Linked DNA regions of Homo sapiens. The protein of the gene in region 2 purifies or fractionates together with the protein of the main gene of each other region. This does not show direct contact. Each region holds a gene or a part of one and is shown on either strand. Other genes may lie near its edges.

Region 1 (3,649 bases), on a different chromosome or scaffold from region 2:
GAAGAACACACCCCAACATACATGCCAGTCTTCAAAGAAGCTTCAGAAGCAATATTTATTTTTGACTTTCTCTACTCTATAATTTTTAAAATGAAGGCGTGCCCCTGGATGCCTCCTCCGCTGGCACACATGCAGCGACAGAGCCCAGCCCCTTCCTTCTAGAGCCATTATTGAGTCCCCACCAGCGTGGGTACCATCCTGGGTGGGGGTGGGGGTCAGACACACCCATACCACCTCATCACCACTTCACGGAAGCTCAGCTGTTTGGCCTACTCGACGCAAGCTGCACCTTGCAGCAGGCTTCTCACCTCAAGCCCCCACATGCACAGTGATCCCCACCCCACACCACTCTGCCACCTTGGCTCCTCCTATAACGGACACAAAGAAACCACAGTGGGAGGGTGGTGCGTGGGAATGTCCTCACCGGCCCAAGACTGACCCTCATCATGAAATCAAGGACACACCTCTGCACCTGGGAATTACCCTCAAGTTGCACTAACCACCTCTGCCAATATGGGGGTACTCTCACCGACTGAAGGCCATCCCAACTGACCCAAGATGGCCCTCGCCAGCTTGGCGACCCAGCCTCCACTGCCCCACCTACCTGCACCAGAACCCGCAGCCCTCTCTGCATGCTTCCCTCCCCGCTCCCCAAGCTGAGTTTCCAGCAGCTGCTGCTCCCAGCATACAGGCTGCCCAGCAGGTCTGGCCAGACAAACCAGCTTCCAGGCCCCAAACTTAAAGGCCCATTTGTCTAGAGATGCCCGCAGGGCCTCACAGTATTCAAGTGAGGTTTTTGGCTGCACCATTGTGCAGAGACCCTGGGCAGAGGGGCAGAGTCCAAGGCAGGGAACTGGGTAATGGGAAAGGCCCCCCAAGCTGGCCAGGCGCTGCTGCCACACCCAGCCACAGCAGGGTCTCGTGCTTGGAGACTGAGACAGGCCCTACATGGAGCAGAAGCCACACCTGGAAAGAGGTGTGTACCCAAAGTGGCCAGGGGCCATTTTAGAAGACTAAACATTTGCAAAGACCCTGAGGCACACAGAACAGCATGAGGGCAGGATCCTAGAAAAGCCAAACAGTAACTTTGAACCACGTCAGTCTGGGATCAAACTGACCTCAAAACAACCTATCAGGCAACCAAATAAAGACTCAGATTCACCAACTGCAGCTCCCAGAACCCACTCTACACTCACACTGGGACAGAGCCCAGAACAACCAGGACAACCAGATACACCCCCAGAACAGAGCCAGAGCTGACATCTGGAAGGTTGACTAGAAAGCTACTCAGAAAGGGCCTGAATGGTTCAGGACCCAAGTTAGAAATCACACTGCTGGCCAGTCACAGTGGCTCACCCCTGTAATCCCGGCACTTTGGGAGGCCAAGGCAGGTGGATCACTTGAGCCAGGAGTTCAAGAGCAGCCTGGACAACATGACAAAACCCTGTCTCTAAAAAAATACAAAAATTAGCCAGGTGGGACTACACCTGTAGTCTCAGTTACTCAGGAGGCTGAGGTGGGAGGATCACTTGAGCCCAGGAGGTGGAGGCTGCAGTGAGCCACGACTGCACCACTACACTCCAGCCTGGGCAACAGAGTGAGATTCTGTTTCAAACCAAAGAGAAAAAGAAAGAAATCACACTGCTTGGCACCCAGGAAGGCCTCAGAAGGGGTGAAGTCCACAGTCATGTCCAATATCAAGAAAGAAAGCCCTTGGGGCCAACGCAGGGCTGGCCCCAGTAGGGTTCCCCATCATCTGCCAGGCCTGAAACCTGGCCCGGCAGTGGGTCAGGAGCAAGTCGATGATACCTAGGGGAATGCAGGCACAGCTGCCCTCTGGAGCAACCCCCAGAATGCCCCTGTGGCTGCACCAGGAACAGTCCCCAGAAACAGCAGCTAAAATACTGCTAAGGAGCTAAAACCAGAGTTCTCAGACCTAGAAGTCACGGTCACACAGAGACATGGTGCATCTGGACCACAGAGGCAGATGGTGGCAGAAAGAGCCTCAGTAGAAGCCCAGGGCCCAGGGAGGGTGGGAGGAAATGGAGAACTCAATACCCCAAGGCTGCCCCTTCTCAAAATTCCCTTCCACCTACCCCAAACATGGAGTCTCTTCTGCAGGCCTCACCTCTAGTCTTCTCAAGCCCACCCACCTGAAGGTCAAACACCTGAGCAACACAAACAATCCCATCGATAACAATAGGGGCAGGCACCCCCTTTGTTGAGCTCCTTGACCTGCTAATCTCAGCTCAGAATTGCAGCAACCTTAGGCAGACAGGGACCCTAACCTTAGCAGTCTATCTTCTCATTAAAGGCAACCTCATGTGACCCCTGATGGGAGGGTGGGTTTACACCATCCCAGTTGAGGATGATTACAGTAACTGCAAACACAGACAACAGTACTCACTAGATGCCAAGCCCTGTGCTACACACACTTTATGCATACTATCTTTAATCCTCATAACAACCCTTATAAGGCACGGGTTTTTATTATAATCATTTGACAAATGAGGAAGCGGATTCAGAGAGGTTAAGCCACTTGCTTAAAGTCACGCTGCTAGTAAACAGAGTCCAATCCTAGCAGTATAAAACTCGAGCTCTTCACCACTGTCGGAGGTTACTTTCTCTCGAGGTGCACAGCTCTATGGTCTCTCATACAGCTCTCGCTTCTCTTGGTCCGACCGACATTTCTCTCCCATACCCTCACACCAAAGCCCCTCCTTGATGTGCCTCCCCCACTGAGCCTCCAATGTCCCAAGTACCTCAAGGGCCACATGTCCAACTAAGAGCTTATTCTCTGCCCCTCCTCACCAAGTCCCTAACACAGTGAAGCTTCAGGGCCTTCAGTGAAGGCCCGCTCAACCACTCCGAGGAACCTGGACTCCTTCCTCTTCCTCTCCTTCACTCCCACATCCAATAAATCATTCTGTCCTGACAAGTGTACCTTCAAGATGGCACCATGCTACCACCTATCAAAGCCAGCATCTTCTCTCACCTTACTTACCTGCACCCTCTTGCCCCACTGGGCATCCTGTCTCCATCCTTTTCCCATAGCCACAGAGCATTTTCTGGAAACATAAACCTGACCACAGCACACTCCACCCTCCCTATCCAAGCTTTAAACCTTTGGTGTTTTCTCTCTGGGTTCTCAGAGTAAAATTACAGGTACTTAACAGGGCATTCAATGCCCTCTGTGATCTGCCACATCTCTGAATACTTCACAAGTGACAACACCTCCCAGTCTTTATTCATACTGGTTTTTATCTATCTCAAGTCCTTTCTCTCTTCTTCAAACTCCTACTCATCCCTCCAAACCTAGTTCACATCACTTCTTCTTGGTCTCCTCTGGGACTCACCTCACCCTGACCTCCGAACTCTCCCCCGTCTCTTGATGAACTCTTGCAATGTTCTAACCCAACTCAGAACCGCAGCTGCTTTAGTTGAGCAGATGCCTGAACCTTAGGGGTGGGCTGCCTCTTCTACATAGCTGTTAGTCCCAAAGGAAGAAAGGCAGCCGGGGCCGAAAGCGCCTACCCCGGGGTCTGGCACACAGTCAGCAATCAATGACAGGTAACTGAATTGCTTTTGCAATCCCATGGTGCAACCTGCTCCCCCAAGGACCACGAGCTTCTCGAGGGTAGGGCCCTGA
Region 2 (3,649 bases):
CCTCCTGGGTTCAAGCAATCCTCCCACCTCAGCCTCTTGAGCAGCTGGGGCCACAATGCCATGCCACCATGCCCAGCTAATTTTTGTATTTTTTGTAGAGACAGAATTTTGCCATGTTGCCCAGGCTGGTCTTGAACTCCTGGAATCAAGCAATCCGCCCACCTCAGCCTCCCAAAGTGCTGGAATTACAGGTGTGAGCCATCATACTTGGCCTATAATTCATTTTAAAGTTAAAAAAGAAAAAGACTGTTTAAGTAAACACTCTGTGATGTGTGTGAAATCAGAACTTAAATATGGCCATTGACAAGAATGGCCAAAACAGCTGTTTTCTTTCTCAAGCATGCAAGCTCATAAATAAAGCAAAGCTAGGGCCAGTCCCACTTCTTGATAAGATTCCTCTGTTGGCAGAGGTCCTAGAACCACAAAGGGATCCTCCACACCTGCTCCATTCGCCTCACCCACTCATGTTTGCCATTGGGGCATGGTGCTTCCTCTCAGTCACGCAGAGATGAGCCACAAAGGGAGCTGCAAAGCAGCTCAGCGCCCTTAACTCCTCTTTGGAGTTTTATTTTCAAACGACTTCACTGAGTTGAAAAATGAGAGACTGACTATTACTGGGACCCCAGCTGAGCAAACAGACTCCCAATTTATTCTATGTCTGAATTCTCCTATTCTTCCAGTCCTTGGTAAAAATGACATGCCATGAAGCTGCCAACAACAACAATAAAAGATTAAATACCAAACTGCAATGGCTTTAGAGAATGAACAGAATCCACTGTCATCTTTCAAACTCTTGGTCCGTAAATATTAGTCAATGGGATATAGGAAATAGAGGCTGGGCACGGTGGCTCATGCCTGTAATCCCAGCACTTTGAGAGGCCGAGGCAGGATGATTGCTTGAGGCCAGGAGTTTGAGACCAGCCTGGGCAACATACTGAGACCCCCCCATTGCTACAAAACATTTTAAAAAATTAGCCTGGCATGGTGGTGCATTATCTGTAGTCCCAAATACTTGGGAGGCTGAATGGAGAGGACTGCTTGAGCTCAGGAGGTGGAGGCTGCAGTGAGCCATGATCGCGCCGCTGCAGTGAGCCATGATCGCGCCACTGCACTGCAGCCTGGGCAACAGAGTGAGATGCTGCCTTAAAAAAAAAGAAAAAAAAAAAGAGAGAGAGAGACAGAAAAGAAAAAGAAATAGAGTTCTTCCAGAAACAAACCACCAAACAGATAATCTGTATTTAATTTCACTCCAGGCAGGAGGCAGATAATTCATTTTTAATGGGGTAATATGAATTCATCAACATGGACAGATTCATACACAGAATTACAAACACAACTTGCACACATCCTGTAGATATAAACAGTCCTTTGCATACTATGTCCGGGGTTGGTGCCACGTTGCCCCTAGGTGTCCATCAACCTGCTCAGGGGCCGGCAACGCCCCCTGGTGGCTGCCACAAGAACAGTTTAATTCTAATTTCACTTCATTACCTTCACACTCGCCCTAAAAAGATTTATGCACATGCCAAGTTCCCTTTTTTCCGTTCCCATTGGCAAGGAACTTCATCCCATACATGCTCTTTTATATGTGCATTACAAAAGTAACAACACTCCAGAAGTATTAGAAAACAAATTCAGCTGTAATTTCTATCATCGTATCCTAACAACAATTATTTACACAATACTCTGTGCTTCACGCTCCTGTTTGAGAGGATGTTTGACCCATCAGGCTTCCCTGGCACATGAACAAAACTCAGACACAGCCTCAGCTAGGGGGCAAAGCAGTGTCAACACGCAGGCACCCTGGGCAGTATCATTCCCCGAAGCCCCTCATACTTAATGCAGTCAAGAGAGAACCCTAGATTCCACTCCACCTAGATTCCATTCCACAACCCTAAAACTACTCAAGTTTCCCCCAGTGCAGCAAATGGTGTCACCATTCATCTGGATGCTCAAGGCAAAAACTAGGACTTGGCCTTGATGGTTCTTTTTTTCTGGTTCCCCAGACCCACACCACCAGCAAGTCCTGTCAACTCTACTTCGGAATAGCCCATATGTCCACTACTCTCTCCATCTCGCCCGCCACTCCCTGTTTCTTCACCCAGATCTCACCTGCGCCTCCTAACCAGTCTTTCCATTTCCACTTTGCTGCTGTGTCACTGTCCATTCCCAAGAGGGCGGCTACGGTGAGCTTTGAGAAATCACCTTTTTTTTTTCTTCTCCCCGAGACAGAGTCTTGCTCTGTCGTGCAGGCTAGAGTGCAGTGGCGCAATCTCAGCTCACTGCAACCTCTGCCTCCTGGGTTCAAGCAATTCTCCCGCCTCAGCCTCCTGAGTAGCTGGGATTACAGGCACGCACCAGCACACCCGGCTAATTTTTGTATTTTTAGTAGAGACGGGGTTTCACCATGTTGGCCAGGCTGGTCTCGAATTCCTGACGTTGTGATCTGCCCGCCTCAGCCTCCCAAAGTGCTGGGATTACATACATGAGTCAGGAGGTCAGGAATTTGAGACCAGCCTGGCCAACATGGCGAGACCATGTCTACTAAAAATACAAAAATTAGCCAGGCATGGTGATGCTTGCCTGTAGTCCCAGCTACTCAGGAGGCTGAGGCAGGAGAATCACTTGAACTTGGGAGGCAGAGGTGGCACTGAACCGACACTGCATCACTGAACTCCAGCCTGGGTGAAAAGAGTGAGACTCCATCTCAAAAAAAAAATAAAAATAAAACTCCCAACAGCTTCCCACCACACACCTAAAAACTCCCGGCCGGGCACGGAGGCTCATGCCTGTAATCCCAGCACTTTGAGAGGCCGAGGTGGGTGGATTACCCGACATCAGGAGTTCGAGACCAGCCTGGCCAATGTGGTGAAACCCTATCTCTACTAAAAATACAAAAATTAGCCACGTGTAGTGGCATATGCCCCTCCTAAGGCGGAGGTTGCAGTGAGCTGAGATCGCGCCACTGCACTCCACCCTGGGCAACAGAGTGAGACTCTGTCTCAAAAACAACAACAACAAACAAAAAAACTCCCTCCTATGACTTACAAGGTGTTATGTGATCTGGCCCTCCCCACCGTTTTGCATATCACTCTCTGCGTATTTCACAATGAGTCAACCAGCTGGGATTGGAGTGTTGGTTTTTCAAACACTCCAAAGCATTCTGCCTGAGGACCTTGGACTTGGAAGGTCTTCCCCTGATCTCCTCACATCTGGCTCCTCACTATTCAGATCTCAGTTTAGGGGTTACAACTTTACTTACTGATTGTCTATTATACCGTCCTGTCTCAATTCTGTGCATAGCACTTGTGACTATATTTTTCTTGATTATTTATTTATTATGGTTATTGTCTCTCTCCCCTAAAACATAAGTTCCAGAAGGGAGAACCTTGTTTTCCTATTTTTTTTTTAGAGATAGTATCTCACTTTGTCACCCAGGCTAGAGTGTAGTGGCATGAACACAGCTCACTGCAGCTTTGACCTCCTGGTCTCAAGGAATTCTCCTGCCTTGGCCTCCCAAGTAGCTGGGACTACAAGCTCATGCCACCATGCCCGGCTAATTTTTTTAATTTTTTGTGGATATGAGGTCTCATCATGTTGCCCAGGCTGGTCTCTAACTTCTGGGCTCAAGTGATCCTCCCACCTCCCA

Evidence for each region. Proteins that work in one complex are often made in the same cells at the same time.
Region 1: the proteins of MANSC1 (region 2) and PTPRF purify together in Homo sapiens (affinity purification with mass spectrometry; 2 studies listed by BioGRID and IntAct, with this or other methods). This does not show direct contact.

The regions. Positions count from the first base shown.
Region 1 is NC_000001.11:43,533,756-43,537,404, reverse strand, and holds part of PTPRF (receptor-type tyrosine-protein phosphatase F isoform 1 precursor), read right to left. Parts: intron 1-3,649. UniProt on the Homo sapiens protein: Possible cell adhesion receptor. It possesses an intrinsic protein tyrosine phosphatase activity (PTPase) and dephosphorylates EPHA2 regulating its activity.
Region 2 is NC_000012.12:12,333,134-12,336,782, forward strand, and holds part of MANSC1 (MANSC domain-containing protein 1 isoform 1 precursor), read right to left. Parts: intron 1-3,649.